4 linked regions of the Homo sapiens genome follow. The protein of the gene in region 1 interacts with the protein of each later gene in a pairwise test. Each region holds a gene or a part of one and is shown in the gene's direction. Other genes may lie near its edges.

Region 1 (4,704 bases):
TTAGTATTCTAAATATTTTAAGAAAATTGTATACATATCTGTGACAATTGTATTCACAAGCCAAACCAAAAAAAGATAATTATTTGTTTTACAAAGGAGTCAGCTTACAATTTTTCTCTTATGCATGCATTTAAAATGTGGTTTGCCATTAAACTGGAAACACTGATCTGAGGCCAATGATTTAGGCAAGTCATTAGTCTAAAGATTGGCTTCCTCAGCTAGAAAATGAAGGGCTTTGACTAAAAAGTCTTTTTCATTTCAGTACCAAAACATTCTGGGTCTGTGATTTAACTTACGCTCTTTATTGTTGGGATGAACTAATACTGATGGAATACTAGCTTTGTACTAGGCACTGTTCGTATGTTGTCTCTTTTAATCCTCCCTGCAACCTTCTGGCATGGCTATTATAATGCCCATTGTATGGAAGAAGAAATTAGGCTTCGAAAGTCCATTTTATGCTTGTTCATTACATAATTTTCTGGATTTTTTAAATTGATGTATGTGTTTATGTTCCAGGCTAGGCAGAAGCTAGGAAGAATATAGCAGCCTCGTCACTGTTGAAATCTGGGGCTAGATAATTCTTTGTTGTGGGGGCCTCCTCTGTGTGTTACAGGATATTTAGCAGCATCCTGGCTTCTACACGATAGGTACCAGTAGCGCCTCCTGCCTCCAACTGTAACAACCAAAAATGTTTTGAGACATTGTCTGGAAATGTTCCCCTGGGGGAGCAGAATTGCTCCCAGCTAAAAACCACCAGTGTAGGGAATACAGAGAAAAACCAAGATGGTAGAGACAGGTATGTAATCAGATGCATGAATATGTAAACATAGATGTACATACTGTGTGAATTGTCCACAAAAAATATGTACTGGGTACTATGGAAACATGGAGAAGGTAAACTAACTAAACCTGGATGGGAATCAGGGCCTCTGATAATGTGGCTGATTCCAGAACAGTAAGCAAAGTTAGCTAAGCCAAGAAGATGGTGAAGGGCTTTCCAAGCAGAAGAAAATGAGCAGGAAATGCTCAAAGGCATGGAAGTGCAGGATGTATGTCTAGGGAAGGACAGGCAGTTTTGCACTGATGGAGTGGCAAATATCAGCTGGAGAGACATGGGAGATGCAACCTGAAAGGTGTACGCCATATTGAGATGCCTGGACTTCATCCTGTGAGCAGCAGAGTGTTTGGATAGATTCTGGGAAGTGAAAATGTTGGGGCAAAGGGGATGAATATTTGAAGTTTTTCAATACTGGACTTCCAATTTGCTTTTCAAAAGTTTATAATAATTTATATTCATCTAAGCAATCACGAGGGTCCCTTTATTGCATTCCTGCCTGCACTGAGTGCTCTCATTAAAAGCAATCTTTGTGAATTTGGTTGGAGAGTTTCTTGTTTAAACTTGCATTTCTTGGATTGAGTAGCTAGACGTTTTTCCATATGCTATTATCAAGTTGTTATTTCTCTTTCATCAATCTTGTTCATGTCCTTCACCTATGGGCCTATTTTTAATTTTCACAGCCTTTTCCTTATTTGTTTAGTTTTCCTCTTAGCTCCCTCTTCCCCCTTCCCAAACCTGGGTCAGTTCTTATCTATTTGTATGAGACCTTTATATGTTTAGATAGTACCCCTTTTACTTACATTTGCTGAAATGATATTTTTATTTCATCGTTTGAATTTTATTTGAGGTTTTTTGGATGCCTTTTCAACTTTGTTCATGGTGGGTTTTGTCAAATGGAAGTTTCTGATTTTTATGTAGTACAAACTCTCAGTCCTCTCCTCTGTGGTTTTGCCTCTGAGGTCATGCTTTGAGAAGTCCTCTCTTTACTCCAAGTTTTCATAAATATCCAGCAAGGTTTCATCCAGTACTTTTAGGTATAAGAAACAAAACCATAAATCTTCAATCCCTCTGGAGTTTAGGGATATGGTGTGAGCAGAGTATATTTTTGAGAGATACTAAGAAGTCCAGTTGGCCTGACTGGATATCAGTTAGATGTGTAAGAGGTGGATGTGAGGAAGGGTAAAAGAGAGAGGTCCGGAGGGGCTCCACAAACACGGGTCTGTTGAGGGTGATGCAGCCTGGTAATCAGCCCCTTCTGTGGCTTCTCATTCTGTGAGACGTTGGCTGTGCTGCATATTCTAAATCTACTCTTGTCCCTTCTGGATTCAGCTCTGTACCCCAGGAGAGATAAATTGATGTAAAGACTGCACAAATAGACACTTTTGCCTTCTGGCTTCTGGCTTGGGCTTGGCCAGCCAGTGTGGGGAGGGTGGCCACCTGCAAGAGAGGGCAGATGAGAGAGACAGAGATATTTATTCCCCAGCCCACGTTCCTCTGAAGAAAGCTACAGCTCCTGTCAGGCAGCCCCTCTCAAGATTCCTACAGCTCTCCCTTCCATCCCTCCCCACTCTGCTATCTCTATCAAAGTTGGTTCTCCTTGACCTTGCCTGCCGTTTGTTAATTGTCCCTTCATTGGACATTCTTTGGTTTGCCTGATTGGGTGTGCCACACTTTCCTGCCAGGACTCTGACTCACACAGAACTGGGCTGCCCTTGAGAATGGCTAGGTTGCCCCATGAGAGCACCAAGTGCTGCTACTTGGAACTGGTTTGTGGTCAGTTCCTGGAAAACCAAAGCTTGCTTCTTTGAGGTAAGCTAACTCATGCCCCAGAGTCAGACTCCAGGAGACCACACTAGTTCCAGTTGAAGGGAGTGGCCTTCCAAAGCCTGGCTTCTACCACCCCCACCTGTCTGCCTCTACCCATGATAGATCTGCTTCCAATCAGAGACTTACTCTTCTACACAATTTAATGCAGGTAAATGCCAGTGCTAAAAAGATGCCATATGATAGAAAACAGAAGGTTTGTCCATTCTGAAAACATTGTGTTCTCTTTCCTCCTGTTTTAACTCCCTCTTCCCCAAACACATTCTGCAAAATTCTACCTCTAACCTTTTTTCCTTCTATTCTCAGTCCCCTGCAATGGCACTTGCAATCCTCACCATACTCTGTCTAAATTCTAGCTTTACTTTAAGACAAAAATTAAATTCTGCCTACTGAGAGAAGCTCTTTGTCAACCCCAGGCACTTGACATTTCTATTTTCTTTGACTTTGTAAAGCACTTACTACTTCAACCAATCATTTACTATTTAACAATAATAAATACTATTTACCTAGTGTTCACTGTGGGCCATTTCAGGTTTCATTTATTCCTTGAAAATTTTTCCAAGGTGAGCACAATTATCCTCTTTTCATAGAGGCTCAGACATGTTAGGTAACGGGTACAAGATCACACTTTGCAAGTGAGCAAATGGAAAGTTAAATTCTGTCTTCCTTGAAATTGCTATGTTGTCTTTTCTTTTTTATTTAAGGTGTACAGCATGATGTTTTGATACAAATATACATAGTGAAATGATTACTACAGGCAAGCAAATTAAAATATCCATTACCACGATAGTACTTTGTGTATGTGTGTCTGGTGAGCACCTAAAATCTACACTTTCAGCAAATTTTTAGTGTACAATATAATTATAGTCACCATGCTGTACATGAAATCTCTAGACCTGTTCATCTTGTATAATTGCAAGTTTGTGTATCCTTTGACCTACCTCTCCCCATTTCCTGATCCTTCCCACTCTGGAAACCACCATTCTTCTCTGTTTCTATGTATTTGACATGTTTTAGATTGCACAAATAAATAAGATCATGCAGTATTTCTCTTTCTGTGTCTGGCTTATTTCAGTTAGCATAATGTCTTCCAGGTCATCCATGTTGTCACAAATGGCAGTATCTTATTATTTTTTAAGGCTTAATAACATACCATTGTGTGTGTGTGTGTGTGTGTGTGTGTGTGTGTGTGTGTGTGACAATTTTTTCATTCATCTGTTGGCAGACACTGGTTGTTTCCATGTCTTTACTATTGTGAATAATGCTGCATCGAACATGTGGGCACAGATGCCTTCTGAGATGGTGGTTTCATTTTTTGGAGGTATATATCCAGAACTGGGATTGCTGGATTGCATGGTAGTTCTACTTTTAATTTTTTGAAGAATGTCCATACTGTTTTCCATAATGGCTGCATGAATCTACATTCCCACCAACAGTGCACAAGCACTGTCTTTTCTCTACACCCTCACCAACACTTGTTATCTCCTGTCATTTTCATAGTAGTTACCCTCATAGGTGTAAAAGGATATTTCTTTGTGGTTTTAATTTGCATTTCCCTGATGATTAGTGATAATGAGCACCTTTTCACGTACCTTTTGGCCATTTTCATGTCTTCTTTAGGAAGATGTCTATTCAGGTCCTTTGCCCATGCTTTAATCAGGTTATTTTATTTTTTATTTTGTCTTTTCAACAATGCTGTCCCACACTTACCTTTATTTTTACAAACTCAATTCCATTTTGTACTCATCTTTTGTTTATACTTTTCTTTCTAAACTCTATTTCTTAAATGAAATCTTTAGTTGTGAAAGTAGAGTGATCATGCTGTCTCTGAGGAGATGACATTTGAACGTTGGAGAGGAGCCACCGCAGGAAGCCCTGGTTCTTTAGGTGGGCTGTGCAGAGAATCACCTGGGAAGCTTCAAAACAAACAAGCAAACAAACCCCAAATAACCTGATGCCTGGGTCTGACCGCCAGAGTTTCCACATTAATTGGTTTGGGAAGCAGCCTGGGATGCAGATGGTCCTAATGTGTAATTGAAGCT
Region 2 (8,250 bases), on another chromosome or scaffold:
TTTTTTTTTTTTTTTTTTGAGACAGAGTCTTGCCCTGTCACCCAGGCTGGAGTACAGTGATGCAGTCTTGGCCCACTGCCACCTCTGTCTCCCGGGTTCAAGTGATTCTCCTGCCTCAGCCTCCTGAGTAGCTGGGATTACAGGCACCCGCCACCACACCTGGCTAATTTTTGTATTTTTAGTAGAGATGGGGTTTCACCATATTGACCAGGCTGGTCTTGAACTCCTGACCTCATGATCCACCCGCCTCAGCCTCCCAAAGTGCTGGGATTACAGACGTGAGCCACTATGCCCGGCCTGAACTGAAATCTTGAATGTGTTCAGTAGGCATCTTCTTACCCAATCATTGGCTATTTCTGGTAACCTAAAATCTCCCGAGGAATTCTGACTGCGTCAAAAAACCATACTGAGGCTGGGTGTGGTAGCTCATGCCTGTAATCCCAGTGCTTTGGGAGGCCAAGGTGGGAGGATCACTTAAGCCCAGCAGTTAAAGACCAGCCTGGACAACATAGCAAGACCCCATCTCTACAAAAAAAATTTTAAAATTAGCATAGGGTGGTGGCGCACACCAGTACTCCTACCTCCTCAGGAGACTGAAGTGGGAGGATCACTTTAGCCGAGGGATTCAAGACTGCAATGAGCTATGATCTGCCACTGTACTCCAGCCTGGATGACAGAACAACATCCTGTCTCCAAAAAACAAAAATTAAAAAAAAATGTTAATAAAAGCTGTACTGGGATAACTGCATTATATGAACCACTGAAAATGTGACAAAAGCACAGCAGTGGAACCTGCTGTTTGTTCTTGCAGTCAAACCATACCTGTAGCTTTATTCTCTGTGGGTAAGAAAGATTAAAGAATCCTAGGAGTGCTAACATTGTAATTCAAAAAAAATTTAAAAGTCCTTGCTTTTTCATTTAGATTGCCATCTGAGAGCCTAAAAGTGCTTTGAAGGCTGTGTGGCAAATTCCTAAGTGGCAGTTCATTATAAAATCACCCTCAGGACATTTCTGCTTCCCTCAGATACTAATAATAATCTTACGCCTCCAGGTGGGAAGTTAACTCTAGGAATGAAGACCTCAACAAAAAGTTTTTGGCTGCTTGGTGGTAGAGAGACTTAAACAAAGGATTTCTCCAGCAAATTTGTGCGATCATACTACAGATGTGTCTTGTTTCTCCTGTACCTCTCCTTTTTGTCCCTCTTGACCACCACCAAGACTGTTAGACTGTGCCTCTTATCAACCCACTATGTATCAGTGTCCTCCTTCCATCCTGCTAGATGAGTAGGCAGATCTGGGCCTGCCTCTTTTCCTGAGACCTCCATCCTGAACAGCTGAGTCATTCCTTTCGCAAGGGTCTTTGCTTTATTTATTCTCTCTGCTCTCAAATGCTTTTCAAAAGCCTCTTCCCAGTTTCTTCTTTTGTTCTTCTGTGACCTATCTTTATTTTAGAGATGGGATCTTTGTCACCCAGGCTGCAGTGCAGTGGTGCAGTCACAGCTCACTGCAGCCTTGACCTCCCAGGCTCAAGCAGTCCTCCCTTCTCAGCCTCCTGAGTAGCTGGGACTACTGGCATGTGCCACCATACCTGACTTTAAAAAAATTTTTTTTTCTATAGAAACGAGGTCTCACCATGTTGCCCATGCTGGTCTTGAACTCTGGGGGGGGTCAAGTGATCCTCCCACCTCGACCTCCCAAAGTGCTGGGATTACAGGCTTTGAGCCACCACACCCGGCCTGAGACTTATCTTACTCCTGCCCTGCTACTGACCCTTTGCCTGTTTTTACTCTCTCTTTAGGTATGTAGGAAGCTTTAGAAATTTATACACCTGCTGTGAAATACCAAAGGTTAAGAACCCCCACAATAAAATGTAGATGAGAGATTCCCCCCCCCCACTTCCTTCTTATTACAGTCAGCCCATAGAGTGGGCCCCATGAATCACTAGGCGTAGGAACAGAATGGTTTATGTGGTTGGTTGAACTAATCTGAAACTCTTCAGTTCCTTTATATGCTGTCCTAAAGGTGAGCACTGAGAGGTGAGGAAGGGAGAGTCTGTACACTGGAGGAAGAGAAGTTGTTTCCTCTTTTATGTAAAACATTACTGCAGTTCTTCTCGGTGCAATTTGCAGAGCAACTCTGAGTCTACATAAATAAAAAGGGAAAGAGGTGGTTTTTCCAGCACATCTGAGGTCTGATCCCATCTATCCTTTCTTTGTAGGTCCTTGGAAGTTCCAGTAAAACATACACATGTTTGGCTTCTTGTCATTACTGTTCATGTCCTGCATTTGCATTCTCAGTGCTACGGAAGAGTGACAGCATCCTGGTGAGGATGGGGAAGACTCTTCCCACTGTAGTTGAATGTAGAGAGAAATTGCCCTTACTTTGTGGTTTAACTATTCTACAAAATGGGAATCTTATTATATGTTGAAACAAATGGTAGTTTTTTGTCTTTGTCTTCAGTTAGTCACCTCTTAGGGGTTTAGCCTCTCAAAATGCAATGTCATTTTTAGAACTGCATCAATTTCCTGAATTTTTATGTAAAAGATCATGAGTGAAGCTTTGAGAAGGAAAAAAAGGGAATCCCAGAAGTGGGCACTGGGGAATTAGATGGCCCCATAAAAATATGAACTAAATTCGATGTTGACAACTTTGCATATCCTACTTTCAGCCATGTGGTATATCTTTGCACTACCTGTGAGACAGCCTGACACCACACTTGACCTTCACATGGGGCATGAGTACCTTCACCTATTCCTTTAAGCCTTTGCCAATTTCATCAGAGTCCAGACCATGAAGCAGAAACAGGACATACTCACACACACCTTATTCCAAAGGAAAAAACACTACCTTCCTGAAAGCAGGCAGCTGTTTTCTAAGTCTTGCGAAAGAAGAAAATAATGATGTCCACTCCATTCTTTCCCTTTCTTTTACACTGTTAACTTCTTAAACATCTTGGGACCTGGCTGGCAAGTTGGGTATAGCATTGTCCAAGAGGCCACATTCGTAACTGATGTGCCCTAAGTGTATCTCAACTGCAAGAGACAGGATTGAACCAAAACCCCTTCAAGATCTAAAGCTGTGTTCTCTGACATCAGATTCAACGCAATCATCTCCCCAGAGGTGTGTACAGGCCAATATATGCAAGAGTTTTGCCACTACTCCCCGCCCCCCAACCCCAGAAGTATAACACAGTAGTTAAGAGAGTAGCCTAGACCAGCCGCCTCGTCCGGGAGGTGAGGGGCGCCTCTGCCCGGCCGCCCCTACTGGGAAGTGAGGAGCCCCTCTGCCCGGCCAGCCGCCCCGTCCGGGAGGGAGGTGGGGGGGTCAGCCCCCCGCCCGGCCAGCCGCCTCGTCCGGGAGATGAGGGGCACCTCTGCCCGGCTGCCCCTACTGGGAAGTGAGGAGCCCCTCTGCCCGGCCAGCCGCCCCGTCCGGGAGGGAGGTGGGGGGTTCAGCCCCCCGTCCGGGAGGGAGGTGGGGGGGTCAGCCCCCCGCCCGGCCAGCCGCCCCGTCCGGGAGGGAGGTGGGGGGGTCAGCCCCCCGTCCGGGAGGGAGGTGGGGGGGTCAGCCCCCCGCCCGGCCAGCCGCCCCATCCGGGAGGTGAGGGGCGCCTCTGCCCAGCCGCCCCTACTGGGAAGTGAGGAGCCCCTCTGCCCGGCCAGCCGCCCCATTCGGGAGGGAGGTGGGGGGGGTCAGTCCTCCGCCCAGCCAGCCGCCCCGTCCGGGAGGGAGGTGGGGGGGTCAGCCCCCCGCCTGGCCAGCCGCCTCGTCCGGGAGGTGAGGGGCGCCTCTGCCCGGCCACCCCTACTGGGAAGTGAGGAGCCCCTCTGCCCGGCCACCACCCCGTCTGGGAGGTGTACCCAACAGCTCATTGAGAGCGGGCCATGATGACAATGGCGGTTTTGTGGAATAGAAAGCAGGGAAAGGTAGGGAAAAGATTGAGAAATTGGATGGTTGCTGTGTCTGTGTGGAAAGAAGTAGACATGGGAGACTTTCCATTTTGTTCTGTACTAAGAAAAATTCTTCTGCCTTGGGATCCTGTTGATCTGTGACCTTACCCCCAACCCTGTGCTCTCTGAAACATGTGCTGTGTCCACTCAGGGTTAAATGGATTAAGGGCGGTGCAAGATGTGCTTTGATAAACAGATGCTTGAAGGCAGCATGCTCGTTAAGAGTCATCACCACTCCCTAATCTCAAGTACCCAGGGACACAAACACTGCGGAAGGCCGCAGGGTCCTCTGCCTAGGAAAACCAGAGACCTTTGTTCACTTGTTTATCTGCTGACCTTCCCTCCACTATTGTCCTATGACCCTGCCAAATCCCCCTCTGTGAGAAACACCCAAGAATGATCAATAAAAATAAATAAATAAATAAATAAAACAAAAATTAAAATTAAAATTAAAAAAAAAAAAAAGAGAGAGTAGCCTAGAGACTCTGATGAGCATGTGGTTACAATACCTGTCTTCCTAGGGAGCTGTCAGATTTCAGTGAGATAATCTATGAGAAGCACTTCACAGCCTAGTGCCTCAAGGAATGTTAACCATTGCTGTGACAGCTTTCTGAAGGCAAGGAAGAAATATAACTTAGGACTAACGTGAGGAGTGCAGGTAGTCTGGGTTTTCACCATGGGTTACATACCTTGTGCCTGATGGATCTAAGCCATTTCCCAAAGCAGCAGGCAAAGTAAGTCTGTGTCCACTCTGATTTCTAAAGAGAATACTCCTGTCTCATCATCTTTATCTGCAGTTTTTATTTATTTATTTTTTGAGACAGTCTGGCTCTGTCACCCAGGCTGTAGTGCAGTGGCGTGATCTCGGCTCACTGCAACCTCCACCTCCTGGGTTCAAGCGATTCTCATGGCTCAGCCTCCTGAGTAGCTGGAATTACAGGCATGTACCGCCACACCCAGCTAATTTTTGTATTTTTAGTGGAGACAGGGTTTTGCCATATCAGCCAGACTGGTCTCGAACTCCTGATCTCAAGTGATCCATCCGCCTCAGCCTCCCAAAGTGCTGGGATGACAGGTGTGAGCCACCATGCCCGGCCCATCTGCACTTTTTAGACAATCAGTTAGAGACCCCGTAATCTGTATGCTCTAGTCTTCTCCTGCCAAATAAGATGGTAATGAGAAATCTTGGTTAGACTGGCCAGCCCTGGCCCTGCCTGTTTCTAATAGGTGTGTGTGTTTTATATTCCAGTGCAAGCATCTCTTGGCAGTTTACCTGAGTCAGGTTATGAGGACCTGTCAGCAGCTAAGTGTCTCTGACAAGCAGTTGACTGACATATTATTGATGGAGAAGAAACAAGAAGCATAAAAGGTACAGATTGAGCATCATTCTTTCAAAATAGAATCCTGTCAAGAAATGCATTGAAAGCGTCATGATTCACATGGAAAAGAGGTGAAATGGATCTTCAGACACTTCATGTTACTGTCCCTTTTCCCTCCAGGACTGCAGGAGGTGCTGTGGGTTGGAGCCGTGGGCTGTGGAGGGTTTGTGTATGATGAGAAGCCCTGTACAGTCTTGTCAAGAAATACCCTGAGCCAGTCTCTGAGACGCTTCGGTAAAAAATGTCCCTGGATGGAATCAAGATTTTAAATTCAAATAAAGCCTAATATCATGTTGTGTCCACATTATTTAGTCTTTTTTTTTTTCTTTTGAGATGGAGTCTCACTTTGTCGCCCAGGCTGGGGTGCAGTGGCGTGATCTCAGCTCACTGCAAGCTCCGCCTCCCGGGTTCACGCCATTCTCCTGCCTCAGCCTCCCGAGTAGCTGGGACTACAGGTACCCGCCACCATGCCCGGCTAAATTTTTGTATTTTTTTTTTAGTAGAGATGGGGTTTCACCGTGTTAGCCAGGATGGTCTCCATCTCCTGACCTAGTGGTCTGCCCGCCTCGACCTCCCAAAGTGCTGGAATTACATGCATGAGCCACTGCGCCTGACCCTATTTAGTCTTAAGTAACTAACTGAATTACTAGTAATTTTTAAAAGGTTGGAATGGTGGGCCAAACAGTAAGATGAAGTTTCGACGAGTAGGTCAGTTCTTTTCCTTGGGTCCAGGAAACTATTGAGCAGCAACAGAAGATCAGAGCAGAGATGTGGCTAAACAGTAGCAGGTATGAAAAGACTTAGAGGTTCTGGTTTCTGTAAGCTTCAAATATCTGTGATGCTTGTGCCAAAACAGCTTAAGTAGACTGTATTGTTTGAGAGTTAGTATCGAGAACAAGGGAAGAACTGGTTTCACTCTGCACTTCTGATCTTTACAACAGGGCAATTGAAGGAACAGACTAAAAATCGTGTCCTGGAAGGAAACTACAGGTACTACCAGGGATTTTCAGTCTGAAGAAGAAAAGACAAAATAGATGACAGAAGGAGTATTAGAAGGGAGAGCGATGAGACTCAGTTGGACACCGAGAGAGCAAAGAAGCAATAATACGTGAAGATGAAAATGAAATCAATTTCAGCATAAGAAGACAAGAACTTATGGTAAAGCTGCCCACAGCCAGAAGAGGATCCTAGAAGGACAGGAATTCCCTGTCTGCAGCATTTCATAAGCATGTAATATTGTTGCAGGGATACTGCAGAAGGAGTTGAAGCAGTGGACAGACAGATGATATAGGTGATTTTACAGCCTAAGAAAGCCCTGTGCTTGTGCCCCCAAAACATGAGGTGCTAGTGAATGAATGCTGGGGGAAAGCCCAGGGCCTAGGTGTTGCAATGTTCTGTGGTTGGCAGATGCTTTTTGTTTTGTTAAAAAGTGCAACAGATAAAATTTATCAATACTTTTCTGCTACTCAGGAAACTTGGACTCAGCATAACTTACTTTTTTTCCAGCAGCCTTCAGGGTAAAGTTTAGAAGGTAGATGCAACAAGCCAATGCAGCACCCTAAGCTTGTCTTTTTAAGTTTTATTTTTATTTAACCTAATATACACAGAGTTAAATAATTTTACTTCATAAAATTTTCACACTTTGAGTTCCAAGAACTTAACCAAACTTGAAATTTGGAGAGAAGCAAAATTCCCTATCTATCTATCTAGCTCTAGAAGGCAGAATTTGGTAGAGGAGGGATCCCATTTCACCAGTTTCTTCCCCACGGGTAGTTTTCTGTATATGGAAAAGAATGGAGCTTAAAATTATGTGATGAAAATTTGACTTATGAGACTATCAATCAATCATTTCCCTAAATTAATACAGCAGTTTCTTGATTGAATACTTTATTTATATATATATATATATATATATATATATATATATATATATATTTTTTTTTTTTTTTTTTTTTTTTTTTTTTTTCTGAGACAGAGTCTCACTCTGTCACCCAGGCTGGAGTACAGTGATGCCATCTGGGCTCACTGCAGCCTCCGCCTCCCAAGTTCACATGATTCTCCTGCCTCAGTCTCCTGAGTAGCTGGCACATGCCACATACCCAGCTAATTTTTGTATTTTTTAGTAGGGACGGGGTTTCACTATATTGGACAGGCTGGTTTTGAACTCCTGACCTCGTGATCCGCCTGCCTTGGCCTCCCAAAGTGCTGGAATTACAGGTGTGAGCCACCATGCCCGGCCGAATAATTATACTTTTAATTTTTGAGGTCACCTTCCTGGCAACAAGTATACATTTTTAGTACAGTCAACTTTTATTTTTCCATTGCCTCTAAGTTAAAAAGTATTTGCATTATAATAGTTCACACTGTTTCACAGTAAAATAGTTTCAGTAATTTTCCACCATAAACAAGGCAGACTTTTAAAAACAAAAGAGTCTGTTAGAATCCATTCAAGCTGTTGGCATAATCCACACAGTAAAAGCAGCTGAATAGATCATAAATATATTTGTCAATCCTTGGAGCCTACTACTGACACATACATATTAGCTAGATACGTGGTAGCTCCAGGGAAGTGCTCAAGAGAGGCAGTCCATTTCCTTGTGAGGTGTAGCTATCTTTCACAATGAAAACCAGCCGTGTCCTCTTTGTTTCTTGTGGATTTGTATCTTCTCCTGGAAGAGGCGAGAGCCTAGATCATAGGCCCACACCGAGAGCAGGCTGTACCCCAGCCTGACCATTCCCACTCTTGACATCTGCTTGGCAGAGAAGATACCTGGAGATAATTTTGTGAAAAGTGTAGCGGAAGTCTCGGTTCCGGTAAGCATAGACAATGGGATTGACAACTGAATTGGCATGTGACAGAAGAATGGCCATATTCATTGCCCACTTGGGCTTATTTTTACCCTGAGCTGGCTGGAAAAGAG
Region 3 (7,800 bases), on another chromosome or scaffold:
AAACAAACATTGTTTTGGCCAGTTTTGGTGGGACTTGTGTTGCAGTGCATCTATCTGTTTTGCCTCTGTCAGGTATGTACTTGGGGATGGAGTTGCTGCGCCTTCTCTCTTGAAGTCGTTTCCTCCACTCCCACGAGAGCTCTGTCACATCACTAGTGAGCCTTGTGACACTGATCGATTGCATAGCATTTCACACAACTGACCCCTGAGCCTGGGTCACTTTTCCCGCATGGCGTCTGGTACACTTCTTGGCCACAGGTGTCTCTTCTCAGTCTCCTTTGCTGGATCCTCCTTATTTCCAGCACTAAGTGTTGGAGCCCTGGGGTGTGGGCCATGGCCCAGGGGTGGCTTCTAGCCACACTTGCTCCCCAGGGGCCCATCTCACCCAGGCTTATCGGTTCCGCAGGGTTGGCCGCCACACTGACATCTCCAGATGCGTGTGGCCGCCTGTCACCCCAGCACATGGAGAGCCTAAAAAGCACCTCAAATTTAACTCCTGACATAAAAAACAAACTTCTTTTTTTGGAGACAGACTCTCACTCTGTTGCCCAGGTGGAGTGCAGTGGCGCAGTCTCGGCTCACTGCAGCCTCTGCCTCCCTGGTTCAGGTGATTCTTGTGCCTCAGCCTCCCAAGTAGCTGGGATCACAGGAGTGCGCCACCACGCTGGGCTAATTTTTGCATCTTTAGTAGAGATGGGGTTTCACCATGTTGGCCAGGCTGGTCTTGAACTCCTGAGTTGAGGCAGTCTGTCTGCCTTGGCCTCCCAAAGTGCTGGGATTACAGGCGTGAGCCACCATGCTCAGCTGCTACAAAACAAACTTCTGATCCCCTTAACCTGCCGTCCTGTAACTTAATTTTATCTCCAACATGAAACTCCTTCCTTCTCAATTTTACCATCTACAGGCAAACCTTACTGCATGGCTTTCAAAATACATCCAAGTCTGCCCTCTCATTACCACTTCCTGCCAATGCCTGGTCCCACAGCAGCCAGGGTGGACCCAGGTTCCATCTCACCTCTGTCTAGAGCCTCCAGGGACTCCCCAGCTGCTCAGGGCCCTGCGTCATGCAGTCCCCACTCCCTCTCGCTGTCTCAGCTGGACCTGCGTGAGTGGCCGTTCCTGCTGTCCCTTCTGAAGCCTGCGTCGCTTGTGCTGCCACTTCCTGCGGTCTGTGCTCAAACATCACCCCTTCAGCTGCCTCTCCTCACCACCCCAGGGCTTCCCTCTGTCTGTTCTCTGGAGCAGCTGTCATCCCCAGAAGACACCGTCCACATCTGTGTGGCTCATCACTGTGCCCCCGCTCCAGAATATCAGCTCTTGGGGGCCAGGACTGTCTCATTACCCCCCATCCCTAGCACGAAGAACAGGGCCCGGCTCCTGGTAGGCTCCTGGCAAATGTAGCATCGGAAGCAGCTCACTTGGGCTCTCTGGCCATGCTCGTGGTCTCGGGTTTCCTATTAAGAGTGCTTTAACAGCTGTGACAGAAGCTTCCAGAAATTAGATGTGATTTAATAAACCGAGAGGACTGAATGTCCACAGCTGTCCAGGGAAGTACTCTGTAGTGATGTGAAAATTCCGAATGACTCTGAGGCGCTGGGTCCAGCCTTGCTGGGCCTCACACCCCGTGCCTCTGCCCTTAGGTTTCCGTTCAGCCGCCCGGAGCTGCTGAAGGAATGGGTGCTGAACATCGGCCGGGGCAACTTCAAGCCCAAGCAGCACACGGTCATCTGCTCCGAGCACTTCCGGCCAGAGTGCTTCAGCGCCTTTGGAAACCGCAAGAACCTAAAGCACAATGCCGTGCCCACGGTGTTCGCCTTTCAGGACCCCACACAGGTAGGAGGGCACTGCACCTTCCGTCTGGTCACATCCAGCCTGCGTTGTTTACCAGCAGCTGGGGGCAGTGGGGGTGGCGGCATGTGTGGGAAAAGCCAAGGCCAAGAACTCCAGTGACAACAGCACTGTCACGCCTCTGGGGTCCACAGCCCTGTGGCCCTGCTGGCCATGACCTCGGCTTTAAGAGAAGTCATAAATTAAAGGCATTTTAAAAATGAATTATTCTATGGCTGGGTGCGGTGGCTCACGTCTGTAATCCCAGCACTTTGGGAGGCAGAGGTGGGTGGATCACCTGAGGTCAGGAATTCGATACCAGCCCAGCCAACATGTTGAAACCCCATTTCTACTAAAAATACAAAAATCAGCTGGGTGTGTTGGTGGGCACCTGTAATCCCAGCTACTTGGGAGGCTGAAGCAGGAGAATCTCTTGAACCGGGAGGCAGAGGTTGCAGTGAGCCAAGCTTGCCTTGGTGGAGGTGGGATGTGTGGGCCTGGCTCAGGAGAGGGCTCACAAAGAGTTGGATGCTGAAGCCTTGAGATCGCATGATAGGCCACAGGGGCACCCACGTGGAGTGGGCAGGCAGGGCAGTGGCGGGACAAGCCACAGGCCAGCAGCTCCCTGCATTGGTGGATTTATGGGGAGAGGAAAGGGATCCGTGAGTGGAGAGTGGAGCCGATGGGAAGAACAAAGCGGCCACGTAGCAAACACGCCCAGAGCGGCCGCCTGGGAGCCCCTGCCCCATCTGTCCTCCCCAGCACCCTTCCCAGATAGCCTCATGCAGTCTGCCTGAACCTCTTCAGGTTGGCAGTCCCTTCCTTCAGGAAGCCCTTCTGGACCCTCAAACCCCCTCTTGCCTCCGACCCCTTCCTGCCCCTCAGTCTTCCTGGCCCCTGTGGCCCCTGCTGTCCTTCCTGTTTCCCTCATTGGTTTTGTCTTCTCCCCTGGAACAGAATCTCCATGAGGGCAGGGGCTGCCTTCCCTGCTTCAGGCCCCACACCCAGGACGCTGCCTGGCACAGCCCAGGTGCTCGGGGTATGTGTCCATAGATGAACACTTTAATCACCTTCACGTATTTGTGATAACGTTTGTCCTGGAAAGATGACACTTGAGCCACTGGGAGTGGGGACGTTTGTCACTGTAGCCCTCGGTGCTTCCAGTGCCTGGTTGGTGGGGAGAAGCTGGGTACGGCCTCTGCCAGCTCTGCTTTGTGGGCCCCACCCCAGTGTGGCCCAGGGGCTGCAGGTTCTGGGTCAGTGGCACCTCGAGTGGTGAGCTGCGCTTCTGCTGCTTGCTGGCGGTCATGGGGCCAGGTGCCAGGCCCTGGGGTGACACATAGGAAGTAGATGGGTCCCTAGCTCTACAGGGACCTATTCAGGGCACTCTGACCATGATTTGAGGACATCTTTGGAGAAAGAGAAGCGCACCAAGCGGGCAGTGTGAGTTGGGCTGAGCTTCAGGTCAGTTTCATTTAGCAGCTGTTCGTTGACTGGGGCATGCAGTGGGCCGAGCAGCGGGGACAAGCATGATGCCCGAGGCCTGCCCCGAGCTCTGAGGGTTCTTGGGGTCTGCATCCACTCTGTGTGTGTCTCTTGTAGCAGGTGAGGGAGAACACAGACCCTGCCAGTGAGAGAGGAAATGCCAGCTCTTCTCAGAAAGAAAAGGTGAGTGCACCGGGCCAGGTACTTGAATGTTTAAATTATGCTGTGGGTTGAGACAGGGAGGTGGGATTTTCCCAGCAAGGCCGGCCCGCAGGGCTGTCGCCTTTCCTCATATGCCAGTTTGGATTCCCGGTTTTTCTGGAGGGAAGGCCCAAGCCTCTCAGCTTCCTTCTTTTCAATATCAAAGAATCTCAGTTGCTAGTAGGGATCGTGCCTGATTCCCTTTTTCTTTTCTTTTTTTTGAGACTGAGTCTCGCTCTGTCACCCAGTCTGGAGTGCAGTGGCATGATCTCGGCGCACTGCAACCTCTTCCAGGTTCAAGTGATTCTCTTGCCTCAGCCTCCCGAGTAGCTGGGATTACAGATGCCCGCTACCACGCCCGGCTAATTTTTGTGTTTTGAAATAGAGACGGGGTTTTACCACGTTGGCCAGGCTGGTCTCGAACTCCTGACCTCAGGTGATCCACCCACCTCTGCCTCACAAAGTGCTGGGATTATAGGTGTGAGCCACCGCGCCTGGGCCCCCACTTTTTTTTTTTTGTAGAGATAGCATCTTGCTATTTTACTCAGGCTGGTCTCAAACTACCGGGCTCAAGCCATCCTCCCACCTCAGTCTCCCAAAGTGCTGGGAGTATAGATGTGAGTCACTGCACCCAACCTTTTTCTTTGTTTTTGAGACAGGGTCTCACTCTGTTGCTCAGGCTCTGTACAGTGGTGCAGTCATGGCTCGCAGCAGCCTCAACCTCCCAGGATCAAGCCATCCTCCCACCTGAGCCTCCCAAGTGGCTGGGACCACAAGCATGTGCTACCATGCCCAGCTAATTAAAAATTTTTTTTTTTTTTTTTTTTAGAAATGGGGGTCTTGCTATCTTGCCCAGTCTGGTCTCAAACTCTTGGATTCAGGGGATTCTCCTGCCTTGGCCCCACAAAGTGCTGGAATTATAGGCGGGAGCCACCGCACCTGGCCGTGCCTGATTTCTTAAAGTTCAGTTCCAGGGCCGGGCGAGGTGGCTCACGCTTATAATCCCAGCAGTTTGGGAGGCTGAGGCGGGTGGATGTCTTGAGGCTAGGAGTTTGAGACCAGCCTGGCCAACATAGTAAAAACCCCATCTCTACTAAAAATATAAAAATTAGCCGGGCTGGGCGCAGTGGCTTGCGTCTGTATTCCCAGCACTTTGGGAGGCCGAGGCAGGCGGATCACCTGAGGTTAGGAGTTCGAAACCAGCCTGGCCAACATGGTGAAACTCCATCTCTACTAAAAATACAAAAATTCGGCTGGGCCTGGTGGCTCACACCTGTAATCCTAGCACTTTGGCAGGCTGCGGCAGGTGGATTGCCTGAGGTCAGGAGTTCGAGACCAGCCTGGCGAAACCCCGTCTCTACTAAAAATACAAAAATTTAGCTGGGCATGGTGGTGGATGCCTATAATCCCAGCTACTCTGGAGGAGAATCACTTGAACCCAGGGGGCGGAGGTTGCAGTGAGCTGAGATCGCACCACTTCACTCCAGCCTGGGTGAAAGAGTGAAACTCCATCTCAAGAAAAAAAAAAATTAGCCAGGTGTAGTGGCATGTGCCTGTAGTCCCAGCTACTCAGGAGGCTGAGGCAGAATTGGTTGAACCCGGGAGGCAGAGGTTGCAGTGAGCCGAGATCATGCCACTGCACTCCAGCCTGGGTGACAGAGTTAGATTCCGTCTCAAAAAAAAAAAAAAAAAAATTTAGCCAGGCGTGGTGGCACATGCTTGTAATTCTAGCTACTCAGGAGGCTGAGGCACGAGAATCACCTGAACCCTGGGGGTGGAGGTTGCAGTGAGCCGAGATTGCACCACTGCACTCCAGCCTAAGTGACAGAGCGAGACTGTCTCAAAAAAAAAAAAAAGTTCAGTTCCAGGGTGTGTGCTAGGGAGAAGCTGGCTGTGGAGGGGCACAGACCCTGGAGCTGGTCCCTGGCTGTTGCCACTCCCCTAGAGGGACAAGTAGCAGCTGCAGGAGGGCCCTGCATGTGCAGGGCTGTAGTGCAGACTTCACCCTGCCGTTCCCAGGTCCTCCCTGAGGCGGGGGCCGGAGAGGACAGTCCTGGGAGAAACATGGACACTGCACTTGAAGAGCTTCAGTTGCCCCCAAATGCCGAAGGCCACGTAAAACAGGTAAGACTGAGTGCAAAGGTGGTCTGTGGTTGGACACAAGATGACTTGCTCCAAACAAAATGGAAACCAGTGAGCACCCACCATGAGACCTGTGTGGCCGAGGCAGGGTGTGCAGCCTGGGTTTCAGAGCTCCCCAGTCAAATTCTCCACCATGGTGTGGGCACATCTGGATTTTGGGGGAGCAGCCCGGAGTGTCTAGCTGCCCTGGGGTTGTGCTGTGTGCGTGTCTGGTGGCCTGCTCACCATGGCCCGCCTTCCTGCTGGTGATGCAGCTCTAGGCTCTCACTCCCCTGTCCTCAGGTCTCGCCACGGAGGCCGCAAGCAACAGAGGCTGTTGGCCGGCCGACTGGCCCTGCAGGCCTGAGAAGGACCCCCAACAAGCAGCCATCTGATCACAGCTATGCCCTTTTGGACTTAGATTCCCTGAAGAAAAAACTCTTCCTCACTCTGAAGGAAAATGAAAAGCTCCGGAAGCGCTTGCAGGCCCAGAGGCTGGTGATGCGAAGGATGTCCAGCCGCCTCCGTGCTTGCAAAGGGCACCAGGGACTCCAGGCCAGACTTGGGCCAGAGCAGCAGAGCTGAGCCCCACAGGCTCCGGACGCAGAGGTGGCAGTGGCACCAGGGCCGGCAGAGCTTTGGAGCTCTGGCTGTGGACATTTTTGTCTGCTGTGGACACTGAGAAAGTTGGCCATGAGGCCTGCTTGGCCGGGGATCGAGACAGTAGCCAAGCTCCCCGGCGAGAGCCCCAATGCCGTCTGGGGGACGTTTAGAGGCGTGGCACTAGGAGTGCACATCTGTGAGCATGACAAGCTTATCCTCCCATGGTAACAGAAGTCCAGGCTGAGGCTGATTCTGGACGCTGTCCTTTCAGCACACGCAGAGCAAAGATCGTTGGAAGCCCCAGTGTGGGAGATGCTCCTCAGGGAGGAAGCCATGTGAGGGGGCTGGCTCTGTGGCGGGTGAGTGGTCCCCTCCTCCATCAGCCTGGACAGCCGCTCGGGGTTCTAAGGAGTGACTCCTGTCCCGGCCTGGTGTGAGTGGGCAGTGTAATAAAGTGTCTTTCTATACGGTGTCGCTCCCATCATCATTTTCTCTAGTGCCGTGATTCCTTCTAAGAAGACTGACTTCCGTGGCCGGGCGCAGTGGCTCATGCCTGTAATCCCAGCACTTTGAGAGGCCGAGGTGGGGAGATCACTTGAGGTCAGGAGTTCAAGACCAGCCTGGCCAACATGGTGAAATCCCATGTCTACTAAAAAAGACACAAATTAGCCAGGCGTGGTGGCACACACCTGTAGTCCCAGCTACCTGGGAGGCTGAGACAGGAGGATCAGCTGAACCCGGGAGGTGGAGGTTGCAGTGAGCCGAGATCACACCACTGCCCTCTAGTATTGTCACTGGGTGACAGAGCGAGACTCAGTCTGAAAAAAAAAACTGACTTCCTATTTTGTCTAATTTATAGCTTTAGTGAATTAAAGAAAAAAGTTCTAGCCTGATTTCCTAACTTGGGGTCTATTTATTTCTCAGGCAATGTTGTTTAATGTAGAAAATGGAACCCCAGCTTCACGTGAAGCCTTGTGGTTGAGTGAGGAGTGAAGGATGGGGAGGAGGCCTCTGGGGAAGGGGTTCCCTCCCTCCTGAAGATGAACACACAATACACGGAAGAGCGCCAGCCTCTGCTTTCAGGAAAGGTTTATTGTGGTGAGTGCCTTCTGTACAGTCGACTGCAAATGAAACGCAGAGGATGGGTGCCCAGAAGCACCTGCGGCAGAGGCGCACGGGAAGCCCGGGGCCCAGGCTCATGCAACACGACGCTCACCGCGGCTCGGGCCGTGGGGCCGTCAGAGAAACCTTTTTAAAAAATGGAGATGAATGTTACAGAATTGGACAACCCGAACTGCTTTTCAAAACCAGAGGAAGGAGGTTCTTAGCCGTTACTCAGATACCAGTGCTGGGGAGGGAGGCCTGACTTCAGCAACAGCTGTGGGTGGGCTGGAGGCCGGCGCAGCTTGGGGCCCCCCGCGCCAGCTGTCTCAGCCACCACCTGTGCGGCGCTTGCTCCGAGGGGTCAGCAAGAGCAACTGATGGCTGCCACTTCCAGGCCCCGAGAGACAGGCCTCACGTAACTTTACTGCAGCCGAGGTCCAGGCCGTGGAGGGGGTCCTA
Region 4 (8,552 bases), on another chromosome or scaffold:
GCAAAACCTTCTAAGGGTCTTTCTTGCCTCATAGTAAATCTGGTTTTTTGTTGTTTTTTGGGGGGCGGACAGTTTCACTCTTGTTGCCCAGACTGGAGTGCAATGGCACGATCTCGCTCACTGCAACCTCAGCCTCCTGGGTTTAAGCAATTCTTCTGCCTCAGCCTCACGAGTAGCTGGGACTACAGGCGACCGCCACCACGCCCAGCTAATTTTTTTGTATTTTTGCTAGAGACAGGTGTTTCACCATGTTGGCCAGGCTGGTCTCGAACTCCTGACATTAGATGATACACCCGCCTCGGCCTCCCAACATGCTGGGATTATAGGTTTGAGCTACTGTGTCTGGCCTGCCTCGTAGTAAATCGTGACTCACTGCCTCCTTCTTCCCACCTGTGTCCTTCTCGTGGATGGTTTGTCTCTGGCCCCGGCTTAGTCATCATTTTCTGGTTCCTTCTTAAGTTGGCTTGGACCCCGCTTGTGAGCCACCCAAGCACTCTACACAGCCTCACCTCACCCTCCATCCCTCATCCTCACCCTCCATCCCTCGTTACCTGCTTCTCATCTGTGATGCTCCCCTGATCTCTGCAACATTAGCAGTCCCTGAGACCGCGTAGGTACTCAGTGAATATTTGTTTAATCAATGGGCAAAGGAATAGTCCTAAATCATCAAAAATGAATTTTTGAGCAATGCGGCTACACATTGGAGAAGTAGTGTTTATTTTTTCACAGAAAATGCTTCGGGATAAAATAAAAGAATGTTCACCTGTAATCCCAGCATTTTTGGGAGGCGGAGGCAGGTAGATTACTTGAGGTCAGGAGTTCGAGACCAGCCTGACCAACATGGTGAAACCCTGACTCTACTAAAAACAAAAAACAAACAAAAAAAAAAAACAACAAAAATTAGCTGGGCATCATGGTGCATCCCTGTAATCCCAGCTACTCGGGAGGCTGAGGCAGGAGAATCACTTGAACTCGGTAGGCGCAGGTTGCAGTGAGCCAAGATTGTGCCACTGCACTCCAGCCTGGGAGACAGAGGGAGACTCAAAAAAAAAAAAAAAAAAAAGAAAAGAAAAGAAAAAAGAAAAAGAAAAGAATGTTCTCAGACACCACTTGAAATGTAGGCCTCTGCTAGAGAAATACACATGCTGTATTTGTTTGGTAGAGACTTTGTCCCAAGATCACTGCCCTCGCTGCCTCTGCCCTTGAGGCCTGACCATTTCTTTGGGATGACAGTAGTGTCAGCTGAAAATTGTATGATGTGATGTAGCTCAACAGAGCTACAAACAAGTGCTAATAATAGGGCCCAGAAGGAAAATCAACTGTCTAAAACACTTCAGTGGTTGACATTTGGGCTGTAACTTGAAAAATAAGCGAGATTCCGCCAGAAGGAGACATCCAAGTACAGGAAGCACATTTGAGGCCAGGGGACTCACATCCATTAGGACCTAAGTGCTCAGGCTCCAAAAGAATGCCGCCCTCGACTTCCAGAGCAGCGCAGCGTCTGGAGCTGGGGCACCTCTCCATTTCTTTGTATAGGACTGTCCACACTATGAACTGTGGACTTACCTGTCAACTGTGCAGTCTGGAGTGTAAAGTCTGTATTTTATTCAAGTGTAGACTCATCAACTCCCTCAATACCTTCAAAAATGCTCGGAAAGTGAGTGTGATTGGAAGGTAAGGATGTCTTAGGATAAGGCAGGAAAGGAAACACAGGGGGCTGGGCTGAAGACAGGCTGGGACTAGCGTGTGAAGGGTCTTCTTTCCACAGGAGAACTTGGACTTTATCCTCCTGGGCAGGCAACGGGGAGCCGGTGAAGGTCGCATTGCAGGAGGATGGTGATGAAGCTTTTTAAGGAAACATGTGCTGGCACTGTGAGTAATGGACTGTAGCAGAGACCAACCGCGACGCCACTGAATCAAACCAGGTGAGCAGTAACAACGGCAAAACCACTGGGGGGACGGGGAGAAGGAAAGAGTTTTTAGGTAGGATTGACAGAATTTGTAACCACTTGACATGGGAAATGAGGGAGTGTATCTGATCATGGTTTGAGAAATTTATACTAAAGTTTTAAAAAACTGATCTTGTCTAAGGAGAGATGCCATGAAAATGTATTTCATGTTATAACCTCACATCTCAAGGTGAAAATGGATGTTTCTTCTGAGACACAGGTTTGAAAAAAAGAAGATCATGAGGGAACAAAAAGCCCAGTTCTGATTGTTGGAAAGGATTACACAATACGAAGAGAAAGAAGAGATGGAATTCTTTTAGTTTTAGTTTTTTTCTTTTTCTTTTTTTGAGACAGGGTCTCGCTCTGTCACCCAGGCTGGAATGCGGTGGCACAATCACAGCTCACTGCAGCCTCAACCTCAAGCGATCCTCCCACCTCAGCCTCCTGAGTAGCTGGAACCACAGCCATGCACCACATGCCCGGCTACTTTTGTATAATTTTTTAAAGAAATGGGGCTTTGACATATTGCCCAGACTGGTCTTGAACTCTTGGCCTTGGGCGATCTGCCTGCCTTGGCCTCCTAAAGTGCTGGGATTACAGGCATGAGCCACTGAACCCATCCCATTACTTTCTTTTGTAATAGGTAAGACATAGATGTCTGCTGGAATGTAGACATAGACAAAAAAGATTGAAGTTTAACCTACCAGCCGGGAACGGTGGCTCACGCCTGTAATCCCAGCACTTAGGGAGGCTGAGGCAGGCGGATCACGAGGTCAGGAGATCAAGACCATTCTGGCTAACACGGTGAAACCCCATCTCTACTAAAAATACAAAAAATTAGCTGGGCGTGGTGGCATGCGGCTGTAGTCTCAGCTACTCCGGAGGCTGAGGCAGGAGAATCACTTGAACCCGGGAGACTGAGGTTGCAGTGAGCCGAGATTATGCCACGGCACTCCAGCCGGGGTGACAGAGGGAGAGTCAGTCTCAAAAAAAAAAAAAAGTTTAACCTACCAATTTTGGGGCAGAATTCCTAGACTTATACCACATCAATGGCCCTAGCAATGTTATGAACCAAGAGTAAGCTCCTGTAGGTTATCCGTGGAGGTAAAGGAACCAGGCACCTAAGCAAGGACACTATGGCCTACTGGTCAGGGCAGGTTGTCCAGGTAAGCAAGTTTTCTGAAATATGTACATGCTTTTAATATTAAAGGAAATGTGTCTTATGTCGTTAAATGTTCTTTAAAAACATTACTATGAATATAATTATTTAACTTGCAAATTCCCTTAAAGCTAGGATGCAACAAGGTTTCACAAAGAAGGCACCCAACCTTGATGTCAACAGTCTACCCACTATGGGAAGCCGGAGAGGCTTTCTTCCAAAATGCAGAATTGTCAGCATTTGAACGCTGAGTACGAAAAATTATAAGCACAGGCTGGGTACACCGGCTCCCATCTCTAATCCCAGATTTTGGGGGCCCGAGACAGCACTCTGAGCTCAGAGTGCAGACCTGCATAGAGCAAGACCCTGTATCAAAAAACAAAATTAAAAAAGCAGTTGTAAGCACAGGTACACGGTTAACCATGAATATGGTATCCCTGAAAAGCCGTTTTAATGGGGGAACAAACCTAAAATTTGGAATAATTGATAATATGTGTATATGTAGCCAATCAGAGCAGAAACCAGAAAATCAGGCAGCAAGCTTAAGGGAAACGCAACATACTTTGTTTGGTTTCCTTTTCTTCCATAAACTGATCAGGGGTAGGTAGAGTATGCTGCTATAGTTCGGAGTCGTCACCATCCTCACGGAAACGGCAGGAGTGTGAACACCTCCCTGAGCTACCAAGAGCATCTGACTCGTTGCAACGTGGGCCCGAACCCAGCGCCTCTAGGAAACGTGGGGCCGGGGCCTTTTGGTCCCGGGTGTGGGTTGGGGGTTTGGGGAAGGGCCGGGGCCTTGATCCCAGGTGTGGGGTTGGGGATTCCGGGGCTGAGCCGAGGCCTTGGTTAGGGGTGTGGGGCGGGGGTTCGGGGCAGTGCCGGGGCCTTGGTCCCGGGTGTGGGGTTGGGACTTCGGGGCCGGGACCTTCGTCTCAGGTGTGGGGCGGGAGTTCGGGACAGGGCTGGGGCCTGGGTCCCTGGTGGGGCGTTCGGGGCAGTGCCGGGGCCTTGGTCCCGGGTGTGGGGTGGGAGTTTGGGGCAGGGCCGGGGCCTGGGTCCCGGGTGGGGCGTTCGGGGCAGGGCCGGGGCCTTGGTCCCGGGTGTGGGGTGGGAGTTTGGGGCAGGGCCGGGGCCTGGGTCCCCGGTGGGGCCTTCGGGGCAGGGCCGGGGCCTTGGTCCCGGGTGTGGGGTGGGAGTTCTGGGCAGGGCCGGGGCCTTGGTCCCGGGTGTGGGGTGGGAGTTCTGGGCAGGGCCGGGGCCTTGGTCCCGGGGGTGGGGTGAGGGGTTCGGGGCAGGGCCGGGGCCTTGGTCCCGGGTGTGGGGTGGGAGTTCGGGGCAGGGCCGGGGCCTGGGTCCCGGGTGTGGGGTGAGGTGTTCCGGGCAGGGCCGGGACCTTGATCCCAGCTGTGGGGTGGGAGTTCGGGGAAGGGCCAGGGCGTGTCCTGGGTGGCCAGGGTCGGGGCCTGGGTCCTGGGGGTGGGATGAGGGGTTCGGGGCAGGGCCGGGGCCTTGGTCCAGGGTCTGGGGACAGGCTAGGGCCGGGGTCGCCATCCGTCCTGGGCGGCGGGCAGGGGTCTTTAAGGGGCGCACGCGGTGGCGGAGGACCAGGGCCCAGCCCTCCGGAAGTCAGGGCCCACACGGCCCCCCAGCGTCAGGCGCTCCGGTCGCGCCGGGGACGGCGGGCGGGGCGGGCGGGGCGGGCGGGGCGGACGTGCGGCGTGCGCGGGGCGGGGCGATGTGCGCGCACGCGCCAATCGCAAGGCCGCGAGCAGGGTGTACGCGCGGAGAGGCCAAGAAGGCGGCGGGGCGGGCCGAGCGTCGGGTGCGCCCAATCAGCGCGCCGCAACACCATGACGTGAGGCTCTCCCGGGGCTGAGCGCCAGTCCGCGGGACCGGCGGGTGAGTGCGCGAGTTCAGGGCGCGAGGCGCGGGTCCGCGCGGGGGCGGGACTTCCGCAGGGCCCCGGAAGTGGGAGCTGTGTGTTCTCATGCGAACGGGAAGGAGCGTTGGGGATCTGGAGTCCCGGGGTTGAGACATTTTCGGGCCCGAAAGGGGAAGAATCCGCCGCCGCCGCCGCCGCCAGCTCGCGCCCGCCCTCTCCCCTACCTCCGGCCCGGCCCGGCCCGGCCGCGCCGCCTCTCCCTGCCGTCTCTCTCCTCGCCGTCCCCGCGTGTGGCGCGGCCGCCGGGCCCCGGGGTTGAGGCGAGGAGCCCGCGGGCGGCCGGTCGGGCGGGGCGGCGGCGCTGACAGGTGAGGCACCCTGGGCCGCGGCGGGCCGTCCCTCCCGGCCCAGCTCGGACCCGCGCCGCGCCGCCTGTCACTGCGCCGCCATCTTCCCGGAGGACGCGGCCGCGGCGGGCAGGGCCGGGCCTGGGCCGGGGCCGGGGCCGGGGCAGGGGAAGGCCGGGGCCGGGTTGAGGAGGACCGGGGCTAGGGCACGGGAAGGGCCAGGGCTGAGGAGGACCGGGGTCAGGGCCAGGAAAAAGCCGGGGCTGAGGAGGACCGGGGCCGGGGCAGGGGAAAACTGGGGCTGAGGATGGCCGAGGCCGGGGCAGGGGAAGGCCGGGGCCGGGGCTTAGGAGGACCCGTTGAGGCGAGGCGGGAGTCGACGGAGCTGGGTGCCCGGAAGACCGGGCCGGGGTCAGGGTCGGGAGGCCGGGGTTGGGCGAAGGCCGGCGAGGACGGGGGTCGGGCAGGGCCTGGGCGGGGCCGGGGTCGCGGGCCGCGAGCGCCCCCAGGCCGGGCGGGCGCCGGCACCCGCAGTGCGGCGCCAGCCTTGCCACTCGCTCCTCGGTCCCGCCGGAGCCCGGATAGGCGGCCGTGCGGGTGCGGGGCGGGACGGGTCATCAGGGCATCGCATTCCTTTAGAACCAGGAAGTTGGGATCCTGTTGCTCGGTGTGTGTTTGGAACGCTCCTGTTTTCCTGTTGATAGACTTGAGCAGAGGTGGATCTGAAGGAGTTAAAAAAATAAAGTCAGATGTGAAGATTGCCTGTGTTGGTCTTGGGGCTGGGATACATGGGCGGCAGAGAAGCCATCGGAAAGCTGCTGCACCTGCCTCTCAGGGTGCGCTTGGGAACGTGAAGAGTCTTTCCGTTTCAGTGCCGTTGTGCGTCGAAACTTCATGCGAATGTAATTTTGCTTTTCCCCTTATTTTTACGTAAAACGTTCTTAAAACTTGGCTGAGATGAAACTTGAGAAACCTAGCTGTAGAAAACTACCTCCTATCTGGCTTTCGTTTGAGATTCTCTAAGTGGATGCCCAATAACTTGTCTTAATAGTAAATTGGAAGTTTGAAGTTTTGGATAACTGAGAAAACAGGAAGGTTTTCCTTGACAGGGCAGTGGAGTTTGTAAGTATAAACAGTATGCGTGAGGCCTTTTTCTAGAGATGAGAGCAACTCCAAGGTGAACATTGAAGGGGACAGACAAGTTATTTTCCCTTTCGAAAGTTTTTTTCTCTTAGTTTCAGTTGTTTGAATATTTAAATGCACTTGAAATAGGTGCTGAGTTGTAGTTTGTGAAGACCACAGTGGGGAAGAGTGGTGTCCTCTTTTTTCTTGGTGGTCAGGTGGTGTGTGCAGTGTGCAATTTCCATACTTCCCCAACCTGCCTGGCGCCCCTCATTACAGTCAGGGTAATTTACAGAAGTTGAAATCGTTGTGGCTTTTCAGTTTTTTCTCCTTGTATTTAATATGCTGAAAGGCAGTTTTGTAATCAAACCATATAAGAAATAGCTTAATTGAGGTTTGCTAAGTGAAATGCGTTCCGAAAGGCATCAGATTAACAAGCTTATTATTTAATCATAAATTTAATTTGTGTACTTATCTTTGAAACTTGCATTGGTTAGAAATAAATTTTATCCGGTATTTTGAAAAGTTAATGTGAGTTGAGTTGACTTATTTATATGAAACAAAGGCATGGCTTATTCATTAGAAGTTACCCTCGTGTTGCCTACATTTTCTCAATTGTAACAGGGGGATGATGATAATCTCATTTTCTTAGGACTGTTGTAACACAAACATGGAAATGTTGTCTGGTTTTGCTATTTTCACTATTACTGATTTTTTTCTTCCCCCCCCGAGTTGGAGTCTTGTTCTGTCACCCAGGATGGAGTGCAGTGACACGATCTCAACTCACTACAACCTCCACCTCCTAGGTCTTCAAGTTATTCTCCTGCCTCAGCCCCCCGAGTAGCTGGGATTTACAGGCACATGCCACCACACCTGGCTAATTTTTGTATTTTTAGTAGAGACGGGGTTTCAGCATGTTGCCCAGGCTGGTCTCGAACTCCTGGCCTCAAGTGATCCACCTGCCTTGGCCTCTCAAAGTGTTGGGATTACAGGAGTGAGCCACTGCGCCCAGCTTACTGAATTTTTAAAATATTCTACCTTGTAGCTGTCAATCTATTAGCAGAAAGTTTTGTTTTTGTTTTTGTTTTTTTGTTTTGTTTTTTTTGGCTTGTTTACACATGTATCTGGGCAGAGAAAACAGCTTCTGAGCACAGAATGCATATTTGGAGAAAGCAGTTCCACTCTTTTTGAGTAGGAACCAGACAGAAAAAAAGATAACATGGGTACTATTCTGTAGAAGAGTAGCTGAAATTAAGTGGCAGCAAATTCAGGGAGAAATGTAATTTGGTTTAATGTTCGGGAAGATTGCCATTTTTAAAAGTGAGATTTAAAGAATTTATTGAATTTAATGCAATTTCCATAAGTAAGCACAAGTTTTGACAAGTATATATTTAAGGTGTTTTTATGAAGCAGTCTTCACATTATCTTAAAATGTAGTTCTAAAATACGTGCAGGCTGGGTGAGGTGGCTCATTCCTGTAATCCCAGCACTTTGGGAGGCCTAGGTGAGTTTAGGAGCCCAGGAGTTCACCAGCCTGGGCAACATAGAGAGACCTCATCTCTACCAAAAAATCAAAAAATTAGCCAGGCATGGTGGCTCACACCTGTAGTCCAGCTGTTGGAGAAGCTGAAGTGGGAAGATCGCTTGAGCTTGGGAGGTTGAGGCTGCAGTGAGCCATGATCCTGCCACTGCACTCCATCCTGGACAACAGTGAGACCTTGTCTCCCCCCACCCCCAAAACATGCAAATTGGGACATCAAATTGTTAATGGTGTTTACAATGAACAGTGCCTTCAGGTAGCTGCAGCTACTCTACATAGATTTGCAAGTTTTTGTAGTGATAGGCTATGGTAGATGTTACCAGCCAAGGAGTGGCTGACAAACTCCTTTCACTGTTATTTCATTGTCATGTTAAAATTCATATTTTCCGTCAAAATAGTGATAGCTAGGATTATAATCTAGGTCTTCTAATCTTAGTAACGTGTTGTCTATGTTAGGGCCTCTCAAAGTTGTAAAAAAGCTGTATAGATGTGTTACCATCAATCGATTTCATTTGTTTTTATCCTAGTGTTAAAGGTACAAGTTTTTTTTTTT

The links.
Region 2: the proteins of UQCRB (region 1) and ZSWIM7 interact in binary tests that used the Homo sapiens proteins (3 or more experiments, as listed by UniProt).
Region 3: the proteins of UQCRB (region 1) and THAP3 interact in binary tests that used the Homo sapiens proteins (3 or more experiments, as listed by UniProt).
Region 4: the proteins of UQCRB (region 1) and LARP4B interact in binary tests that used the Homo sapiens proteins (3 or more experiments, as listed by UniProt).

The regions. Positions count from the first base shown.
Region 1 is NC_000008.11:96,221,951-96,226,654, reverse strand, and holds the end of UQCRB (cytochrome b-c1 complex subunit 7), read left to right. Parts: 3' UTR 1-3,708; downstream 3,709-4,704. UniProt on the Homo sapiens protein: Component of the ubiquinol-cytochrome c oxidoreductase, a multisubunit transmembrane complex that is part of the mitochondrial electron transport chain which drives oxidative phosphorylation.
Region 2 is NC_000017.11:15,975,113-15,983,362, reverse strand, and holds the end of ZSWIM7 (zinc finger SWIM domain-containing protein 7), read left to right. Parts: intron 1-2,218; coding exon 2,219-2,323; intron 2,324-5,199; coding exon 5,200-5,316; 3' UTR 5,317-6,803; downstream 6,804-8,250. Other genes in the region: ADORA2B (adenosine receptor A2b), read right to left, coding at 8,021-8,250. UniProt on the Homo sapiens protein: Involved in early stages of the homologous recombination repair (HRR) pathway of double-stranded DNA breaks arising during DNA replication or induced by DNA-damaging agents. Required for meiotic progression, hence for fertility.
Region 3 is NC_000001.11:6,626,859-6,634,658, forward strand, and holds the end of THAP3 (THAP domain-containing protein 3), read left to right. Parts: intron 1-1,640; coding exon 1,641-1,833; intron 1,834-2,784; coding exon of another isoform or gene 2,785-2,866; intron 2,867-3,429; coding exon 3,430-3,495; intron 3,496-5,511; coding exon of another isoform or gene 5,512-5,532; coding exon 5,533-5,637; intron 5,638-5,937; coding exon 5,938-6,219; 3' UTR 6,220-6,704; downstream 6,705-7,800. UniProt on the Homo sapiens protein: Component of a THAP1/THAP3-HCFC1-OGT complex that is required for the regulation of the transcriptional activity of RRM1.
Region 4 is NC_000010.11:928,234-936,785, reverse strand, and holds the start of LARP4B (la-related protein 4B), read left to right. Parts: upstream 1-5,080; 5' UTR 5,081-5,358; intron 5,359-8,121; exon of another isoform or gene 8,122-8,552. Other genes in the region: keratinocyte proline-rich protein-like, read right to left, coding at 3,955-4,659. UniProt on the Homo sapiens protein: Stimulates mRNA translation.